Linked DNA regions of Homo sapiens. The protein of the gene in region 2 interacts with the protein of the main gene of each other region in a biochemical or structural test. Each region holds a gene or a part of one and is shown on either strand. Other genes may lie near its edges.

Region 1 (7,205 bases), on a different chromosome or scaffold from region 2:
GTGGACTTCATTCACTTCATGTCACAGCTGCTTGATTTCCCCACAGTTCATTTCTGTAGAAGAGAGCCTTCTGGTCTGTTTTTCCAGATGGCGAGCTTGGGGTGAGTTAGAAGTGCCTGATTGGACTTCACAACTCAGCGTTTTTATTGGCTATTTTTGTTCTAGGTACAATGGAGGTTGATGGATTGTTACTTTTGGTTACCAAAACCAGGAGGAGGGGAGGGTGCTGCTTAGGAGAAACACCCAAAAAGAACAGACCAGCCTTTCTCAGGGACTCAGGGGTGGTGGCACTGCTTCCAACTTACTGCTTCATTTAGAACACCAGATAATAAGCACCCAGGACTCGGCCTTTAGAAGTCAATGGAATAAATAAGCTGGAAAAGGTTGAAGAGAAAAAAGCCAAGGAACATGTAAGTAGAAGATTATATGGAGCCATTTAAGAGCACAAAAAGCAAGAGTAACAAGGCAGCAGATGGAATTTGGCCCCGCCTGGCCCTGCCAAGCTCACTCTGGGAAGCACTGTGTCGAAAGTGCTCTCTTTCTGTCCCCTGAAGCATTCAAGTTCCCTAGCCAAATTCTCAGGCTGTTTCTATGGAGCTTACAAAAAAAGAGCATAGCAGGGTTGATGTGCCCTTTCCTTGTCATTCTGCATCCTCTTCTCAGCTTCATGCAATAAATCTCTGGCTTAAATGAAATTGTTCAAAGGAAAATGGAAAATGGAAAAAAAAATGGTGGAGGGGCAGGAGATACTGACTAGTTCTGGTTTTTCACAAAACAAGAAGAATTTGTCTAAGAGTAAACGGTGTTTATTTTTTGTTGATTTTTTTCAATCAAATGGAATTGCTTAATTAAAAAAAACTTATCTCTTTTCTCCTTAAATACTACAGACAACCTCATTTTATCGCAGCAGACACCTAGGAACAAAACACTGGACCCACCAGAGAAAACTGGGCAATAAAAGCATCAGAAGTTCAAGTCAACTATGGAAGAATTACTGTTAGCTGGCAGCTTTCAATTCTAAACAGAAGTGTCCCAAACCTATTGGGTTTGACAAAAGTTTCTTAGAACTGGGGAGCTGGGAATGTTGGACTCCTTTTAATTCTATTCCAATCATTTCCTGTATAGGGAAATTAAAGTCAATGCATCAAATGAAGACCCAAAGAAACATTTAAAAACTTGTTTGACTAGTATTCAGTATGTGAGATTATTAAGTAATAACTTGTCCACCTAGTTAACCTTGTCCTGGAATATATATAGGTTATTTGTAGCCGCCACTGCTATAATATTTTCTGAAGGATGCCAAGCTGTATGCAAGATCTTTTTGCTAAAGTCCAGACTGTCGACACTGATCTCGTCTTTTCTCCGCTTGCCCCCCACACACACTTTTCGGGGTTTGAGGATAGCCCGGGGCTTGCTGTTTTCCCTCGAAGCCTCAAGGGTCACATCACGCTTGGTGTTTCTGTCGAACATCCTGAAGAAGTTGTTGTAGGAGCCTGTCATGATGACACTGCAAGGCAGAGAGCAAAGGCAATGACATATCTTCACTGTCTTTTCTTTTTGGAGCAAATGATACCATGTTATGGCCAGCTTATGACACCATAGGTTTTATTAAAAACAAAAACCAAAAAATGAGAACAGGCTCTGCAGTGTGATTATTGGCTTTTTGTTTTTTTTTTGTGTTTTTTTTTTTTTTTTTTGAATCACTGAAAGCAATAGGATTTTTGGCTGGGTTTGGAAATGAGGGATGGTGAGAACTCTCCTTGTAATTTGCTTTTGCTCAATAGATTCTTTTTGCTTCTTTGGCTCAGAAAAGGTGTCCACTGGTTTTAATGATCCCAGTCCTACCTACCTCCCATCAGGAATGTGAGACTAGAATGAGGTTTGTCGAAGTAGACACACTTTTGAAAACAATAAGCAGTTGTACGTGTTTAAGGTTTGGCCACTGTCAACAGGGTTCCTGGGCCGTCTGGCCTCTAAGGCTTCATGGCATCAGTGCAGTGAGGGGAGAGATGCTAGTGGCATCGTGCACGAACCCGGGGCGCGACCTCTCCCCTGCCGAGAACTAGCTCTGAATTCGGCCTTTTTAGAAAACTTATCTACGAAATGGATGTCATCATGGTCTTATCTAGGAAACAAGTAAGGAAATTCAAATTTTAAAAGAATCTGGGATGGAGAAATAAAAAGATTTTATATGGTTTTTTTCCCACACTTAATGGACAGATGGTTTCCACATTTTTATAAGTTATCCCCTCTTAGGCATAGCTGCAATCGATCAGGAGAGTGGCAAACACCCAATGTCTTCCAGAGGCAAGGTACTGAATGTTTAATGGTGACATTTCAGACACGGTGACAAGCTGAGGTGGGGAGGGAGAGATTCCTTGGGCCAGGGCAAGTACCCCAAGTGCCATCACACGGTGGTTCCCCTGGAGTGGGGGGCTCCTACTCATTTCTGGGTGGAGCTCTGACTGGCTCCTTAAGATGGGAGAGCAGGAACTCTCGTGTATTTCTCAAATGATTTGGGATGTGTAGAGAGGTGAAGGAAAAAGCTGACAAGATTGGGCCACAGCAAGGGGGATGTGTTTTTGGGCACGTTGTCACCTGTACCAGGTAAATTAAGCAAAGGTTAGATTTTGTTACTCTGGCTCATCAAACTGATACTGTGAACTGTGTCTGTGTACTCGAGTGGACTGTTATCACCTTGTCAGGCAGGGCGCTGAGGGCTTTGCCTCCATGATCTCGTTTCAACTTCTATTATCCCCTAAAAGGGTTTTACAGAGAAGTAATTTGCTCAGTGTCACATTGCTAATTGGTGGTAAAGTCCACCCTCAAACCCACATATGGTTGACTCTGGGGCATAAGTATTCAGCCGGTTGGCCTCACTGCTTCCCATACTTTGACGTTTGCTTGCCCACCATGACCCGACTTATTTTTAAACAAGTAAGAGATTATTTTCCAAAAAAAAAAAAAAAAAGACTACCAACCTTATCTGAAAGAGAAATTAAACTTCCCAGTTGTGATGTTATAGAAAGAGTGTTGATCTTAGGATTCAAACTCTAAACTTGTTACTTTTGTCTCTACTACTTACTACTTTATGAGGTTGGGCAGATTACTTTATCTTGCTAAGCCTCAGTTTCCTTAACTGTAAAATGAGAACGATGGAAGCAATCTTGTTAGACTGTGGTTGGGATTAAATAAAATGATGTGTACGAATGTGTTTGGTATATAGTAGGTGCCTAATAAGTGTAATTTTTGAATCAAGGCTAAGATAGAGGAAAAACTTGAGCAATAATAACAGATATGTAAATAATAATATATGAATAAATAAATACCTATAAATAAATAATAAAATGAGAGGGCTGGCTTCTTTTTCCCATGGTGGATTTTGTTCTTATGTCACAGTTGCTTTGCTCTCTGTCCTATACCAACTGGTCAGTGTGACTTGGGTCCTTTGCCACGTGGAGACTCCTTCCAAGCCTGCTAAGGAGGGGATTCATTTTGGATCAGTGGCAAAGAAAGCCAAGAAACAGGTGGAGTGTGAGAGAGAGACAGTTCATATTCACTGAAAGCTTGAATCTCTGAATGTCTTGCCATAACAGAATTTCTATGCTTTCAAACACTATTATTGGTGCCACCTTCATCAAGGAACGAAATCAGCCCCTGGTAGCTTGCACTTAGTTCTCATGGAAATCAGAGAATCATTTGTATTTGTCAAACTAAAAATGAACTATTGGGAGGTATTATGAAGCACTGTTCAAATCAAAGGCCTTAAAATAGTAATAAATCACTTTGAGGGAATGTGATAAATGAGGTTGACTAGAATTCAGTTAATGAACTACCAGGGCCGTTGGCCAGGTCTCCACTAGCAGCTTCAAGGGATAATTTTTGATCTGGAAAGCCTACTTGGCATTAATCTGAACTGTTCAGGCTGGAATTTGCTGGTGGATAAGTGATCTTCATTTAGGCATGTTGACCTAGTGCTGGAGGTGTCTTGTGTGAAAAAGATAGGACTTTCTTATTAACATTAAGGTGTTATCTGTGCCAGTTCAGAAACAGGATTCAAAGGCCTTACTACATCCTTCTCTTCTTTCCAGCCTTGACTTCAAGGGTCACTAGGGGCCCACATTATGCATTTCAGCCAGGTTTTGGGGCCCAATTTTGACCTCCCTTTGGCTGTACTCTACTTAGGATAAATTCCCTGAGCCTCTTCAAGACAATCTTTGGAAGGTTCTTCAGCCACAGAGCCTTTCTTACCTGTCTGACCCATTCCACACACACTCAAATTTATCAAAAATGCAGTCATTTTCATAGAGGGAACACAGCTTGCTGCGGAGGTAGTCATGAACCTGGAGAGGAAACATATCGAGAAGGTCAGTTATTATTTTAAACAGTAATTATTTCTGCAAACACCTCCTCTTCTGATGTGAGCTGTTAAATCTTTCATTGTACATGCTCTTTGAATCAGATGGCCTTGGATCTGAACCTAGGCTTGGCCCTTTTAGCTGTAGGACATTAGGATGGGTTGATGAGCTTCTCATGTAGATGATATGGATTAATCAAGCTTGCTTGTATAGACAGTGGCATCCAGTAAGACTAAATAAGTGGTAGATTCTCATTTTCTAAGCTGATTTGCTCACAGGCATTAGAGATCACCATTCATGCAGTCTTTTATTCAACAAATATTTACTGAATACCTACTACGCACTTGAGATGCAGCAGTGAGCCAAATATCCTTGCAGTGCTTTTGACCCAGTGTCAGGTGACAGATTATATAACCAAGTAAATAAATAAGATGTTTAGATGGTGATAAAATCATAGAACAAAAGTGTATGGAAAAAGAGCCTGGGAGATCTTGTCGGGGGTGTATTATTTTATACAGGGCAAGTAGTCAGGGCTTCACTGGATGAGGTAGCACTGGAGCAGAAGCCTGCAGGAGATGAATGAGCCACAGTGATGTCTGGGTTTGGGGTGAGGGGAAGGCTCTCCAAGCATAGGAAACAGCAAACATAAAGGCCTAGAGGCAGGAATCCTGGAGGGAGTGTGGTGGGAGAGGAGTGAGTAAGCAGCTGGGGGAGAGGATGATCAGTTTACATAGGCCCTTTATTCTGAGGAAGAAGAGACCTCACAGAAAGGATTGCTGAATCTGCTGTGTTGCAATGGATCCTAAGGGTGCAAAGGCAAAGGGAGGGAGACCAGTTATAACCTGAGTGATAGATTCTGGCCTGGACCAGGGCATGAGCAGTGATGGGGACTGGTCAGATTCTCCTTTTGTTTAGGGAAAGAGCAGATAGGACTTGGGTCAACTCTGAGGTGTGGAGAGAAAAACAGGAGTCAAAGATGACTCCCTGATCTTTCTCCTGAGCAAGTGGAAGGAGTAGGTACCATGTTCACTTTTGGGTACAATGGTTTAGAGATGTCTACATGTGGAGCTGTCGAGTAGACTCTGAGGTGAAAGGTGCTGTCCTGGAGTATGTGGCGATTCTTTCCTGGTTTCTCTTTTCCAGTGAAAGCAGCCAGCATGGTTATCAACTAAGAGTGAGCAGGAGAGAGAAAGGGTTGAGAAACAGTGTCAGATTTCTGGAAGGCACCAGGGGACACTTGACGTTGTTGGACATGTATGTCAAATAAGGCTCATCAAGCATAGTTGAATATTTTTCTCCAGCTACATTCAGCAACTCAGCTGTAGATGCCAAATAGATGAATAAGGTTCAGAGAGTAGTAGCCTGGGTTCTCTGTTTTGAAGGTAATCCTTCCTGAACCCACTAGCACGGAGTGGCAATAATAACGGGCATACCCAATATGCTGGCTTGTCATTATTAGCCAGGTGCTTTATCTGTCAAAACCTCATTTCATCTCTAAAGCCATCTTATGATGTAGGTACTTTCATTCTCTTTACTTTAATGGAGCATGAAGCACAGAGATATGACATCATTTGTCCAAGATCACACAGAAAAAGTGACAGAAGGGGAGGGAACTGAGCCCCGGTATCAGGCTCTGGAGTGCACACTCTGAGCTGCACTAGCAACCTGCCTCCAGCTTGCTCTGGTGGGTCCTCAGTCCTTGACAGGAGCTGTGATAATGAACTCAAGTGAGGCTGAGAGAGAAGGAGATAGAACTGTGTGAAAGCAGAGGGAGGCTACCAAGGGCATTGGTGTTTAAGTTAAGAGTGATGATTCGATCTCTTTTTTCCTGCAACTGCGGCTCTTTCTCTTCCTTCGACTCCAACAGTTCTGCTGGATGCAGAGCTTCAGGCTCTTAGTCTTGGGCAAAGGAACGAGGTCAGGCTCATCCTATGTTCCATTAGATGTTCTGGGTATTTGAAAAGCTCTGAGTTATTTGGACAGAGGAAGTTATTTCTAACTCTGCAAATTAATTTTCCCCCACCTTTACTCTCTCACTTCCAAACAGTTCCAGGCCTTGTCAGGGTAACAGCTTCAGTGCTTTGGTGACAAGGGAATACCCCTACAGCAGTGCTCTTGGCATTGTTAGGTGCATTTGGGGGCTGCAAGGGTGAGGCTGTGTCCTGCCCTTACAGAGGCATCTCTGCTATAAACTAACTCATTCACCTTCACTAGGGGGCACAGCAGTAAAGGTATATAAACTGGGCAGTGGCAAGGTTTTTAAGGTCTAGTTCCATATGTCTGCTTTGTGATGAACCTTTCCTCATCTGTCACCATTCACCTTCGGCATTTTGTCTTATTACTCACCTGCAGTGTTTCTATAAGTGTCAAAACATGTGTGCTTTGGAAGTCACGCCCATTAGCAGGAATGACATTGCTGAGAACTCTGTAAATAATTCTTGAAAGATAGAAGTTGGGATAGATTCAAGGGAAAACCTAGTCTGAACCATTATTTCTCCACCATACCTAAGGTCTGGGTAGCTCCTATCTGCCTCCAATTGACAGCATTTAAAGAAAAAGAATGTCTACTATGAAGGTATGCTGTATTTATGTTTTGTTGCACAGAAAAAAAGTCTTCTTAGGCAAACCAGAGGGACCTTTTTCTACTAGAGGAAAGAATAAAGTGAGATGTATACATGAGCAACCTCTAGAGCTTGGAGCAAGAGAGAACTTAAAACTCATCCTATTTGATGTTCTTTCTTCATGTTCCTAGTATGACTTTTCTATGATCCTATTAATTTGTGCATGGGATTTTGGACGCCAGACTGAGTGTCCCAGTACAGTGTTTCTCATATTTATTTGTGGGAG
Region 2 (7,662 bases):
TTCCACTTCTTTAGTCATACAACACCATGTAGCAGCTCTTTATTCCTGCTACTCACCTCAACTCTGGCACTCACACTTAGAATGTGTGCATGTTTGGGTACACATCTACTGAAATGCAGTACTTAAGAATATGTAGCTTGGGCTGGGTGCGGTGGCTCACGCCTGTAATCCCAGCAGTTTGGGAAGCCAAGGCGGGCGGATCACCTGAGGTCAGGAGTTCGAGACCAGCTTGGCCAACCTGGTGAAACCCTGTCTCTACTAAAAATGCAAAAAATAAGCCGGGCGTGGTGGTGGGTGCCTGTAATCCCAGCTACTTGGGAGGCTGAGGCAAGAGAATCGCTTGAACCCAGGAGGCGGAGGTTGCAGTGAGCCAAGACTACACCATTGCACTCCAGCCTGGGCAACAAGAGCGACACTCCATCTCAAAAAAAAAAAAAAAACAAATATGTGGCTCGTATCTTGAGGCTTCTAAGTATAGTGTTATTTTTCATTGGTTCATAAAGAACTTAAAAGTGATTAATTTTGCTGGGCACAGTGGCTCAAGCCTGTATTTTGAGCTACTCAGGAGACTGAGACAGGAGGATCCCTCGAGCTCAGGAGTTCGAAGCTGCAGTAAGCTATGATCACTATGATCGCACCATTGCACTCCAACCTGGGCTACAGAGGGATACCTCATCTCTTAAAAAAACTTTTTTTTAATGATTAATTTTGGGAAAGGGGGTATGTTACTCCTTTTAACATTTTCATTTACTAAGAGGCACTGTCTACGTTGCATTTCACAGTAAATAGATTTAGTTAAAATGGTGACATTCGTTTCATCTTTCATTGATAGTGGATGTTTAGCAATTACAGTACTTTTCTATCTGGCTTAGCATAGCACACTCTTTGTCTTACTCTTATCTCACTGGCTACTCCTTCTCTGTCTCCTTGACAGTCCTGTATCTTCTCCCGGATGACTCCCTCACATTGCTGCGCCACAAAGCCCAGTCCTCGCTGTACACTCAGCCCCTTGATAATCTCATAACTGAAGCTGAAGCATAATGTTATTTTTCATTGGTTCATAAGGAGCACAAAGATGATAACTTTCTTTTTAAGGTTTTCATCTACAAGGGGGCATTGTCTACACCATGTTTCAAGGTAAATATATTCCATTAAAATGGCAATATTCATTGCATCTTTTATTGATAGTGAATGTTTAGCAACTTCCAGTAACTTTCTCTCTAGCTTGTAGCATTCCACACTCTTGTCTGATCTCCTGGAACCAGTTCCCTCTGTTCTCCAGGATGGCTCCCTGGCCCAGGCACACCTCTGGGCCCAGTCCTTGCAGCTTTTCCTTCCTCCCCACTCCCTTCAAAACTGATCCTCCTGAGGTCTTTGCGATGTCAGGAAATGACAATTCCATCCTTCCAGTTGCTCAGGACAGAAAACCTTGATGTTATCCATGACTCCTCTCTTTTCCTTTATCCCTACCTCCAGGAAATCCTGTTGGCTCTTCCTCCAGAATATTTGCAAAGTCTAAGCACTTCTCACCATCTCCACTGTAGCCTCCATTCCATTCCATTCCATTCCATTCCATTATCGGAATAGTCTCCTAACCCATCTCCCTGCTTCTGCCCTAGTCCACCTAAATTCTGTTACTTACATAGCAGCCTGAGTGTCAAATCATATTGGTCCTCTTCACCAAAGCTTCCAGTGGTTCCCAATTTCTCACAGGCCAAAGACCTTACAATTGCCTACCAGGTTTTATACACTCTGGTCCCTAATTTCATTGAAGGCAAGGCTCAAATGATACCTCCTACTTTGATCATCCCAGTTAAAACTGGAACACCCTTCCCCAGCTCTGTTATTTTCCATAGCATTTATCACATCCCGATTTGGGGAATAGACGCCACAGAATTAGTCCAGGCTGACCACCACACAAACAACAAATCTAAAAATAGCAAACTCTACCACCACCTGGATTGGGAGTGGGTTAATACAGAGTCCAGAGTTGCTACAACATATTATCTAAAAGAAACAGGATGTACAAAGAAACAGCAAAGTGTGACCCATACTCAGGAAAATAAGGAGTCAACAGAAAACTACCTCTGAGGGTTCAGTGTTACTGTGATCAGTGCAATTATAGTTTTTTTTTGTCCTGCATTTTCACATAAGATTATATTAGAAACAATTTCATAAGTCATTAAAACTTCTATGAAAATAATATATATTTTTTTTGAGGCAGAGTCTCCCTCTTTCGCCCAGTCTCCCGGGTTCAAGCACTTCTCCTGCTTCAACCTCCCAAATAGCTGGGATTACAGGCATGTGCCACCACGCCTGGCTAATTTCTTCGTATTTTTAGTAGAGATGGGGTTTCCCGTGTTGGCCAGGCTGGTCTCGAACTCCTGACCTCAAGTAATCCACCCACCTCAGCCTCTCAAAGTGCTGGGATTACAGGCGTGAGCCACCGCACCCGGCCACATTTACCACATTCTAACAGGCCACATAATTTGCTTATTTATTTTATTACCTGACACATGTAATCCGTACAAGGGCTAGAGTTTTCATATGTTTTATTCACTGATGGATCCCCAGTGGGTAGAACAAGACTTGGCATGTACTAGGCACTTACACATACTTATGGAATGAATAAATAAATAGTATAGTAGATTGCAAACCAACAATTTGTGGAATTAAGTAGGAATAAAAATACAACTATGTGAAGATCATTTACTATGTTAATATAATTACATGGTACAGTGGAAAGATCATGGGGTGGCTGGGTGCGGTTGATCACGCCTGTAATCCCAACACTTTGGGAGGCTGAGGTGGATGGATTACTAGAGGTCAGGAGTTCGAGACCAGCCTGGCCAACATGGGAAAACCCATCTCTACTAAAGTTACAAAATTTAGCTGGGCGTGGTGGTGTGTGCCTGTAGTCCCAGCTACTTGGGAGGCTGAGGCAGGAGAATCACTTGAACCTGGGAGGCAGAGGTTGCAGTGAGCCAATCACGCCACTGCACTCCAGCCTGGATGATAGAGGGAGACTCTGTCTCAAAAAAAAGAAAAAAAAAAAAAGTAAAAAGAAAAGTGATTACCAAGACAACTACCACAGACTGGGAATTTCTGAAAAGCCTCAACTTTTCTTTTCTTTTTTTTTTTTTTGAGACAGCGTCTAGTTCCGTTGTCCAGGCTGGAGTGCAGTGGTGCAATCTCGACTCACTGCAACCTCTGCCTCCTGGGCTCAAGCCATACTCCTACCTCAGCCTCCTGAGTAGCTGGGACCGCAGGCCCGCACCACCATGCCAGCTAATTTTTTGTATTTTTAATAGAGACGGGGTTTCACTATGTTCGTCAGGCTGGTTTCCAACTCCTGACCTCTAATGATCCTTCCGCCTCGGCCTCCCAAAGTGCTGGAATTACAGGCGTGAGCCACCACGCCTGGCCTCAATTTCTTAAAAAGCAAAAACAGGAGGGAGGAGGAGGGTATGCAGTATCCTAAATCCTCAGAACCCCTGGGGAAGAACCTCATTCCAACTCCACCAGCACTCCCAGGCCCAGGCTTCTAGCATGCTTCCGACCTCGCTAGCTGCTAAATAAATAGCTATTGAGGAATGTGTATTCTCAAATACTTAGGCTAGAGGGCTAAGAAAAGACAGCTTCCATCTACCTCTGTGGGACTCTACCAGTGTGAAAGGATACTCTCAAGGTATTTAACAACTCCCATTACAGTCCAGAAATTGGTGGGGAAAGTTAAAATATATTTTCTTTTCTTTTTTTTTTTTGAGACGGTGTTTTTGCTCTGTTGCCTGAGCTGGAGTGCAGTGGCTCACGCTTGTAATCCCAGCACTTTGGGAGGCCAAGGCGGGCGATCATGAGGTCGGGGGTTTGAGACCAGCCTAGCCAACACAGTGAAACCCCGTCTCTACTAAAAATACAAAAGTTAGCTGGGCACGGTGGCGAGCGCCTGTAATCCCAGCTACTCGGGAGGCTGAGGCAGGATAATCGCTTGAACCCGGGAGGCGGAGGTTGCAGTCAGCCGAGATCCACTGCACCCCAGCCTGAGCGACAGACTCCATCTCAGAAAAAAACAAGCAAACAAAAACAAAACAAACAAACAAACAAAAACAAGAAAAGAAAAGTTAGCCGAGCATGGTGGGGCACGTCTGTGGTCCTAGCTATTCGGGAGGCTGAGGTGGAAGGATTGCTTGAGCCCGGGAGGTCAAGGCTGCAGTGAGCTGAGATCATGCCTCTGCCCTCCAGCCTGGCCGAGAGTGAGACTGTCTCAAAAAAAAAATAATAATAATAACATAAAAATAAGAAATAAGAGTGAAAGAGGCATCATTGATTGAAGATAACTTGGGGAGGGGTTCATATAGTAAACGTATAGATTGATTGAAAGACACAGCCCAGTTTTAAAACTACATAAATATCCAAAAAAGCACATTTGAAATTCCACGAGACCTTGCAATGTCAAAATAAGGAGGGACGGGAAGCACGGTGATCACACAATGGCTTATGACATACACTCACTACATTTATACCTGGTACAAAGAGCGCAGAAACGTTTCAACTCTTGCTTGAATCAAGAACAGAAGCCTCTCTTTAGACAGGTCAGTGCCACATAGTAATGTATAGCTTAAAATGTTAGTTAATGTACAAAAATCCAAACTCAGCGTTTAGATGTTCGGGAATAATGCATGAACATTTAAATATTCAGAAGTGGAATGTATGCATTTTTAAAGTTTATTTTATGATTTAATTTTAAAAATTTGTTTTAATGTGAAATTCTGGGGTAATTTGTCATGTAGTAATAGATACAAATATGGCAAGCAGGGATTTTTAAATAATGAACAGAAATATCTTAAAGGAGCTATTGGAAAAGATGGAAAGAAAGTGTGAACAACTTGGGAATTTCAGTGTCTTACAGTTTTTTTAAAGCTTGTTATAGTTTAAATCGGAATAAGGAAGCGTATTTCCAAAAGATTGAAGTGATTGTGTTATCTCTCCCACGAAGTAGTCTACTTCAGCAAAACAGTACACCGTGTGCTATTTTGGCCTCTTGGGAAAGATGGTATGTTCAAGTTTGCTAGAAAGAGATAATTATCGCTTTTAGCGACACCTCTCACGGAAAGTTCATCGGGATATTGGTCTAGAGAGAAAATGGCGGCGGGGGGTGGGGGTGGGGGAAGCCGAAATACCTCAGTTTAGGATCTGCTATGGGCAATGGATGCCCTAATTTAAGGTTAATTGTAGATCCACGGGCTTCCAACTGTGTATTTCCGTCATCTACACTTTTCCCAGAAAGAGATGCCATAATAAATTTACAAAACAGTCCTATAGTCTAGTTTTATATTCTTGTCAAGAAAAGGTAATATTTAAAAAGTACTAGCTAGAATTCTATAAAAAACGAACAACAAAAATCACTGCCCTCTGAATGTTCGTTCTTGATTATTTTGACGCAAGTAGAGACAGCTTTTTTAAATCCGGCATTATCTCCGGGTGGTGCAGACATGCAATTTTTTATGAATTTTCCCACCCTTGGGAAATCGATTTCTGAAACGTGTAATTGTTGTGCAGTAAGCCAAGTGGACAGTGACGCAATAGTCCACTGCAAGTTGCCTTACAAAAAATGATGTCATTTGGCGCAGATCTAGTCACTTTTATAACAGGTAGCTATGGAAAAGCTCCCTCCACGTTGTCCCCGATTCCCCCACCCCCACCGTGGCCAAGATGCAAAAAGACACTTTCCTGGCTTCCTAGCCCTCAACTTGTCGAGGGTGGGCGCACCGCAGTGGCTCAGGGCCCATCGCTCGTGCAGGCGGAGAGAGACCGCTGCAAGGGGACGAGGACAGCTGAGTGTCCTCAGCCCCGACGGCGGCGCCGCGGGGGAAGCTGCGTCGGGCCCAGTCCAGGGCCGCGACGCCCGGCCGCCTGTTTTCCTCGGTGGGAAACCGCTGGCGTGGCGGGCCGGCAGCCGGGACGCGGGGCGCCGCGGGCGCGGGACAGCCTTCCCCGCCCCCCCTTCCCCCCCGTTCCCACACCCGCTCCCGCTCCCGTGGCGCCGGAAGTGACGCGTTTTGGGCTGAAAGATGGCGGCATTGGCGCTCGACCAGGGGGAAGGTAAACACCCGCCAGGCCACGGGCTGGCCCCCTCGGGGCGCCAGCAGGGGCCGAGGGGGGGGCCTCCCGGGCCAGCTCCCCGCCCCCAACGGCTTCCCACCCTCCGCCCTCTCTCCCAGCGTGGCGGCCTTCCGCGTCAAGACGACAGCGCACTGGGCCCCCTGCCGGCCAGCCCCGCCTCCCTGGGCGGGCCCCGGGCGGCTCCCGCGGCCCGCAGGGGGCGCGCGGCCCGGAGCGGCCCCCGGCTCGTGGCCCCGCACGCCCCGCCCCTTCCCCGCCCCTTTCCCGCCTTCCTCCACCCCCGGCGTGGGTGATCCCGAGGCTCGGCGCGCTTCGGGGCAGAAGCCCAGAGACGCCGTCCTCGACGCTTCCTCGGCTGGTGCTTCTGTCTCTGCCTGCTGCCCCCCAGCCCTTTTCCCCGCCCGCGGCCCCAGTCGGCCCTCCCGCCGAGCCCCGTCGGGTGCTGCGAGGCCCCCGGCGTTGGCAAGGTCGGTCCGGGCCCCGACGCCGCGCCGCCTCGTGCGGAGCCCGACTGTCTGGTTTCTCGACTCAGCGCTGTCTTCTTTCCCAGGACTTATCCAGAGGGGGCTGCAGGCGAGCACTCTCGTGCCCCGCCGGAGCGACCCGGCTCGTGCCGGGAGCGGCTGCTCGTAGACGTCCGAGGAGCCTGCCGAGTGCCGTCCCGGCGCCCGACCGCCCACCCATCGGCCCGCTGGCCCGGTTCTTCCTGATGCAGACTGCCGTCCACTAGAGGCTGGACAGGACCCCCCGAGGTACGTAGCCGCCCCTGGCCGCCGGCCTGCGGAGCCCGGGCTTCGCCCGCGGCCCCGAGCTAGGCACGAATTCGCCGGCCCTCTCTGCACGGACCCGAGTCAAACATTTGGTAGACGCCGGGACCTCGTTTGTCTTCGAGTTTACTTAAATTGTTTGAAATGTAATTTTTTTTTCCAGAGAGAGCGAGAAAGAAAAAGGAAGAAGCATAATTCAGCCATTTTTTGCAGCACACAGCTGCAGGTACCATGATTATTTTTTGCCTAACCCGTTCCTTCCCTTTAACAATTCAATTTATGCCTGAAATAGAACTATGCAAAATGCGAGGCATAAAACTAGGAATCGGAAGGTCTGGGTTCGACTTGGGTGACTCTGAGAAAAAATCGCGTACCGAGCCTTGGTTTCTTATCTATGAAATATAGTCGGTACTACCAACATCGCAGGGTTGAGAGGACTATATGAGGTCATATATGTGAAAATAATCCTTAACTGTAGAGTGTTGTAAGAATGCAAGGCCGTTTTTTAAGTAACCTTTGGTAGAGTGGTTAATGTAGTGGCTAACTGTTGCTGCCTCTTTATTTCTATATTATAAATATAAGCAAATAAGTACGGAATAATAGTAAAGCAGTGCTGTGAATCCATAGATCTGTAATAGTCACGTTGCTTGGCCTTCCTCCTACGAAGTGCTAACTGCTTATTTAAATAACGGTATTCTTTAATTCAAATGTAACGTTACCGTAGGGGCTTTGCTTTTCATCGTTCTAGGCCGCTTTAGGCCCCTTTTCTTAC
Region 3 (7,034 bases), on a different chromosome or scaffold from region 2:
TGTTGGAGAATATACTGTAATGGAGAACAGAGTGGATAACAGATTTTTTTTTTTTTTTAAAGGAGGATATTGCCGTAGAAGAGGTTGATGGTAGCTTGAACCAGGGTGGACACAAAGGTGAGAAGCAACTGGATTGTTTGGGCAGGTGTGTGTGTGTGTGTGTGTGTGTGTGTGTGTGTGTGTGTGTGTGAAGAGACAGGCGGGTGTGTGTGTGTGTGTGTGTGTGTGTGTATGTGTGTGTGTTTAAGAGACAGGTTCTGGCTGTCATTCAGCCTATACTGCAGTTTCTCAAATCTCAAGTGAGCCTCCCGCGGGCCTCCCACAGCGTTGAGGTTACAGATATGAGCCACCCTATCTGGCCTCAGGTTGTATTTTTAACTGCAAATGGTTTTGCCTAATTCGTAGGGTTGAGAAAGAAAAAAGCAAGTTTAGGAAGATCACACTTGTGGAGCTCAATTGTCTTGTTTAATCAGGAGGCCAGGTTGTCCACCTAGAGTGAAAATAGCTTCAGAGGCTTGAGGACTGAAAATAGTAAAGGTCTGGAAGACAGCAGAGAAAATAAAAAGAGCTGAACAAAGGCTATTTTAAGGATTAACTGATGCCCTGCATGAAGTTTGAAACCATATGACTTTAGTGATATCAGTCTAACGTGATACGTCATTTTCCCTTCACAACACTCAACTACCCAGCTGCAGGAGTTAAGCATAGATTCTAGAATCTACAGGATTTCATTTGTAAATGGCTTGAGTTAGATGACTTTTAAATCTACGTGAGTTCCAAAACTTTACTTTTAAGAATCCTAGAGTCTGTACTGCTATCACACAATTTATTTTAAATTGGTGCCTAGATATACATAATGTAAACTTACCATTTTAACTATTTCACTAGTTTATTTAAATTCAGCATTCTAGCCAGGGGCCTCCAATAGGTGTGCTGGGACATTAAAAACCTAGCCCTGAAGGTGGCAGCACTGGGCCTGAGGTGACTAGTCTCAACTTCTGTTGCCACTGGATGGAAGCAGCCTCATCTTTTCATTACAATATATAACACAAGTGTTCATTTTCTAAGCATGCTGAAATTGAAAAAGTTTGGGAAGTACTGTCCTAAGCCACAACATATGAGAAACCCAGTATTATGAAGAGTTCAAAATAACTGCTTCTCTGTTAAAGATGTTTTTTCAGCAGATCTTTGGAACCTCAAAATTTATTCCATGTGGTTCTTAAAGCTTTAGAACCTATCTATGAGGATGCCCGCCATTTCCATTGTTAAAGTGGCCATATAAAATCTCATTTAAAAATCTAAGAATTTTGAATGTACCCAAAGGTTTCCATTTACATAGAAATGGGATCCACCAGGGAATGCCCATTTCATTCATTCATAGAATATTGATTTGGTGGCAGACACTGGGCTAGTTCCTGGAGATAAAAGGGTGAACAAACCTTTTTTATTTTTTATTTTTTTAATTTTAAGACAGGGTCTCTCGCTCTGTCACCTAGGCTGGAGTACAGTGGCACAATCATAGTTCACTGCAGCCTTGAACTCCTGGGCTCAAGCAATCCTCCCACCTCAGCCTCCACAGTAACTAGAACTAGAGGCACGAACCACTGTGTCCAGCTATTTTGGTTTGATTTTTAGAATAGGAGACAAGATTTCACTATGTTGCCCAAGCTCATCTTGAACTCCTGGCCTCAAGTGATCCTCTTGCCTCAGCCACCCAAAGTCTGGCCCAAGACGTGGTTTTTTATCTCAAGAAATTTACAGTCCAGTGGGGAGACAGAATTAATTAAATAACTAAAACAATAAAAACTGTAAGATGGGGAGGTTACATGGTACTGTAGGAGGATCTAGTAGAAGAGACTATTGAAATAAGATAAAAACATGATTAGTAGATAGCTGGGGCAAAGAGTGGGGGTAGGTTTGGTGGAGAACTCCAGGCAGAGACAATAGCACGCAATGGCCTAGGAGACATCAAAAGTCTAGTGAGACCAGAGGACAGAAAATGTCTGGAAATAAAGCCAAAGGGGTAGCAGAGGCAATTCAAAGGGGCTTCCTTCACAGAGTAACTGGAAGCCACTGAAAGGGTTTAAGCAGCATAGTGACATTAACAGATTTACTTTTCAAGATCACAGTAGCTGCAGTATAGAGAAGTGGTCTCAAAGTAGACACAATTTAAGGTGGAGGAGGGAAGATGTATTTTTATTCTATTTTTTATCCTTTAAAAATGCTTTTAAAATGGATTATAATCATATTAGCTAAGAAATACTAATTATGGCTAGCTTTTGGGCACATAGTATATATCTGAATACTAAGCAGTTTACATATATTCATTTAATCTTAATACCCTGTGAGGTTGGTACTATTATTATCCTCAATTTACAGGTAGGTAAAATGGGACAGCGAGCTTAAGCAGTCAGTCCAAAGTCACTCAGTAAGGAAGTATTAGAGCAGGATTTAAACCCAGATGTCTGACTTCAGAGCCTGTAACTTCATTAGATCATGTACCATTTTTCAACAGTACATGTATGTAATTTAAAATTAAATATATATATGGAGAATAGAAGTTCAAATTTTTTTCTGAACACCAGTGAAAACAAAGATTTAGGAGGGGTGGTTGGTAGCGTGGATGTGGAAAGGAGCCTAGCAGTAGACTAGGTAAGAAATAACAGTATCTTGGATTATGGAGGTAGTGATGGAGAGAAGGGGATGGATTTACATGTTTAGTAAGTAAAATTGGACTGCGTGATGGCTTGGATATGGAAGTTAGGGATGAATAAAGTGTCAAGGATGACTCTTTGGTTTCTGACTTGCATAAATGGATTAGAGAGTGAGACACAGGCAGAGGCCATAGGAACAGGTTGGGTCATTCTGCTCAGTTTTTCTTTGGACCACAGTAGAGACCACAGCACACTGCTCTTTCAATACTCTGTTAAATGACAAACTTATTACAGGTTATTTCTGTCATAAACATAAAAGCTTCACTCTGTCAATTATGTTTCCTATCTTGCGTTAAAAATTACATAGTCAAAATTTCATCCATTTTCTTTTAAAAATGTGGAGTTAAGTCTTATAAAATGGGGAAGTGAATGATAGTTGCTGTAACAGGCTAATAGAAGGTTTAGCACCCCTCTTCTGTATACTAACTTTTTAAGTTATATTTATTCATCCCTTAAGATGTGGGACAGGTGGAAAAATTACCTTTCCACTTTGTATTTATGATTTCTAAGTACTAAACTTTTAAAGCCTGTTAATATTATCCCTTCCCAGGTCTTAGAATAATTACACAAAAGTACTGGACTGGTTTAAAAGATATTTGATTCTAGTCTATTTTGTTCATTTGTAGAATTTCTAGTGGTCTAAAAACGATTCTTTTACAAATCAGGAGAAATAGGAATACCTACTATCGGTTTGAATCTCAAACGAACAGCCACAAGAAAAATGGACTTTTTAAAAAAAATTATCTAACAGCATGTTGTCCCAATAAATAATGCTGAAGGAGATTCCTTCTCGTTTCAAATTTGCCAGAAACTTCCCGTTTAACCTCAGCAAAATACAGATCGTTTTGATCTATGGCGTTACCGCACAACCCTGTCAGGTCACATCACTAAACTGCAGATAACAGCGACAAGGCCGAAAACTATGTTAGACGGATCCGCGTCCATACCCCCCATCAGTTAATTTTAACTCTTCATTCGGTACAGGTCACTCTACACATGCTTCCCTGCAAAATGCTTAAGCTAGACACAGTGTACAGATAACTTTCACAGAACCGCAAGGGCTTGATGCTCCCCCAACAGAACGGCTTGAGCTTTCCCCAGCGCAATTCAGAAATGCTGTGGCGGTCGCCAGACTCTTCGGGTAGCTCCCGGCAGCTCCGAGGTAGCGCTCCCCTCCCCAACCATCGCCCTCCGGGATGGGCCGCACCGAAGAGCCCGCTCCTCAGCTAGGGCACGAAGTGCGCCGCCGCGATGGGCAGCTGGAGGAAGGGGCGTGACGCAAGTGGAACTCCCGCGTGACGTCGCGCGGGCTCCCGGGCGGGGCGGGTCCGGCCGCCTCCGAGCCCGGCCGGCAGCCCCCGGCCTTAAAGCGCGGGCTGTCCGGAGGGGTCGGCTTTCCCACCGAGGATTTGGCACTCTGGTGAGGGAAAAGGGCGAAAGAGAAAAGCGAGCAGCCGTCCTTTCACAGCCTCAGAAAGTGCTCGCTTCCCTTCGGGGGCTTTCGCGAATCCCGAGGCAATCTCGGAGGCGGTGAGTAAAAGCAATCTCTTTACCCCACCCGGAGCTCTGGGTCGGAGCGACTGCTTCTGGTCTGGAGCTGCGTGCTTGGCGAAGGGCTCCCGGGGTAGGGGTGGCTCCCGGCTCTGGGGTTGTGTCTGATGAAATAGGCCGGGCCCGGGCTACACTCGGTGGTGGTGGACCGGCGGGAGGACGAGCGCTACCTCAGTACTACTTCTGGGTCTCCCGCGCGGGCTGAGGAAGCGCCTTTCGCCGCCAAGCCCGCCCCGCGCATGCGCCGACTGCGGCTCGCGCGCGCGCTTCGGAGGTTTTTTGGCCAGACCCGCACGCGGAACCGGCGCGGGCACCTGGGGAGAAATGGATGGAGAAGGGACCTGGCTGGAAAGCCTTTGCCCCGCTGCTCTGCTCCGCCCATAAGAGGACCCCTGAAATGTCCCGTGCAGTTTGTTCAAGTCCCCTGTGTGATGAAATGTGCCTCTCGCCTTACCCGTGTGAGAATACCTGTGGTGTGGCAGCGAGTATTTTGGTGAGCACCTGCAGTGTAGTGGTTTATACTAAGGAATACACACAAATTACAGGCCTTTGAGCCCAGAATGCAACTTGGGAGGTAAGACGTGACGTTCTGAGAGATTGAAAAATGTACATTGTCGTCGTGCCTCGAATAACGGTTCATTGCAGAGAGAGATGCTAACAAAAAGTGCCGGGCATGCGGGTAGGTGGAAAGGGTTTTGCGAGCCAGAATTTGCAAGTTGAATGTTTTGTTTTTATGTTTTGTTTTTAAGGCACTGTACATCACTTACTTGAAGATAGATACGTAAAGGATGCTTATTTTACACTCTTTAAACGAATATGTTAATACTTTTTCGGTCATTGAAGTAATTAAACCTTCATTTTAAACTGTTGACTTAATAGAAATCGTTTATGTCTTCTTTTTTTTTCTTTTTGCTGCAGAGAGGTATTTTTTCTTTATTTTATTATTATTTTTTATACTTTAAGTTCTAGGGTACATATGCACGACGTGCAGGTTTGTTACATATGCATACATGTGCCATGTTGGTGTGCTGCACCCATTAACTCGTCATTTACTTTAGGTATATCTCCTAATCCTATCCCTCCCCCCACCCCACGGCAGGCCCCGGTGTGTGACGTTCCCCTTCCTGTGTCCAGGTGTTCTCATTGTTCAGTTCCCACCTATGATTGAGAACATGCGGGCTACAGAGAGGTATTTTACAGTTATTGGTCTCATGACTTGATTTCCATCCCTGACATAGCCATGTCCCAGCTGTGTGACCTTGGACATTTACTGCCTTACGCCTCTTCCCCCAACTCTAAAATGAAATTATAGTAGCTGTCTTACAGAGTTTTTCTGAAGGTTAGGTAGAATATAAATATTCTATAATATATAATTATATATTAAATAATATATAAATACAAATATTAATATTAATATTCTATAGTTTCTGGTATGTGGGAAACAAATGGTGACTTTTATTCACAATTATATATAGGCCCATTTGTTTATCTGTTAGAGTTAAAGATAGAATAAAAACCTCTTTGGTAACAAAACTAATGCAGTGCACCTAATTCTACTTTTAAAAACTTTTTTACAGAAATAAATGTACACAAGAGAAATACTGGAATTATGAACCCCATTGTATACGCACCCACCCAGCTTCAGAAATTGTTGAAGTTCAGCCCTTGTTTCATCTCTTCACCCAACATCCATTTTTGTTTGTTTTTGCTGGATTTTTTTTTTTTCAAGCAAATCGCAGAGTATATCCCTTTACCTGTAAATATCTCGGTAAATATCCCTTTAACAGATAAGGCCTTTCTAAAAAAAAAACAAACAAAACCGCATCATTATCATACCCAAGAAAATTAATAATTTCCTAATATCTAAAATCCAGCTCATATTTAGTTTCTGGATTATTTTTTAAAAGTCTAATCACAATTTTTGCAAAGCTTGATAGTTTATTTTTGTAGCTCTTGACGGTTCACCAAGTGGCTTCACATATACTCCTGCTCCCTTCAGAATTACTCTTTCAGCCCCTTTGTCAGAGACCTCAGGAAATGGTTAGCAGGAAACAATCAGTTTGCTTTGGCTAAGGAGCCAGATGTGAGGTTTAGTAGACTTGCTGATCACTATTACTTTTTAAGTTGTAGCTAATTAATGGTTTCATTTTAAGAACACATATTAAAATATTTACTAATCCATTCAAACTTCTTAACCTGTTGGTTTCTTCAAGGACTATGTAATAAACTTAATGATTCACCTTTATTCTAAGAGAGGCATGAAGTAACATTACCCTAATTGTCTTATGACTCTAAGATGTTTCTGTATTCATAGATCTTTGCTGTGTTTAAATCTTACTGACTTCTCTTGTTTTTGGAAAGTTATACAGATCCTCATCTGTGTTAATACATCAGTCAACTGTCTCTTTTATAAAATATATATAGATATGTGTATATATGTGGATGCTTGTTAAGTCAAGACTAAGAATATTTTTCAGTTTTGGGCTCAGTATGTTTCACCAATTCAAAAGTTAAAAAAACCAATTTTTTTTTTTAATTGAGACAGGGTCTCTGTCGCTCAGGCTGGAATGCAGTGGCACGATCTCCGCTCACTGCAAATTCCGCCTCCCAGTTTCAGGCAATTCTCCTGCCTCAACCTCCTGAGTAGCTGGGGCCACAGGCACGCACTACCACACCTGGCAAATTTTTGTATTTTTAGTAAAGATGGGGTTTCACCATGGTGGCCAGGCTGATCTCAAACTCCTGGCCTCAAGTGATCTGCCCACCTCA

The links.
Region 1: the proteins of KLHL15 (region 2) and PPP2R2B form a complex in vitro, tested with the Homo sapiens proteins (one study listed by BioGRID).
Region 3: the proteins of KLHL15 (region 2) and RBBP8 form a complex in vitro, tested with the Homo sapiens proteins (2 studies listed by BioGRID, with this or other methods).

The regions. Positions count from the first base shown.
Region 1 is NC_000005.10:146,588,720-146,595,924, forward strand, and holds part of PPP2R2B (serine/threonine-protein phosphatase 2A 55 kDa regulatory subunit B beta isoform), read right to left. Parts: intron 4,344-7,205; coding exon 4,252-4,343; intron 1,508-4,251; coding exon 1,228-1,507; 3' UTR 1-1,227. UniProt on the Homo sapiens protein: The B regulatory subunit might modulate substrate selectivity and catalytic activity, and might also direct the localization of the catalytic enzyme to a particular subcellular compartment.
Region 2 is NC_000023.11:24,024,070-24,031,731, reverse strand, and holds the start of KLHL15 (kelch-like protein 15), read left to right. Parts: upstream 1-4,545; 5' UTR 4,546-4,592; intron 4,593-6,673; 5' UTR 6,674-6,875; intron 6,876-7,662. UniProt on the Homo sapiens protein: Substrate-specific adapter for CUL3 E3 ubiquitin-protein ligase complex.
Region 3 is NC_000018.10:22,929,321-22,936,354, forward strand, and holds the start of RBBP8 (DNA endonuclease RBBP8), read left to right. Parts: upstream 1-4,007; 5' UTR 4,008-4,244; exon of another isoform or gene 4,245-4,944; intron 4,945-7,034. UniProt on the Homo sapiens protein: Endonuclease that cooperates with the MRE11-RAD50-NBN (MRN) complex in DNA-end resection, the first step of double-strand break (DSB) repair through the homologous recombination (HR) pathway.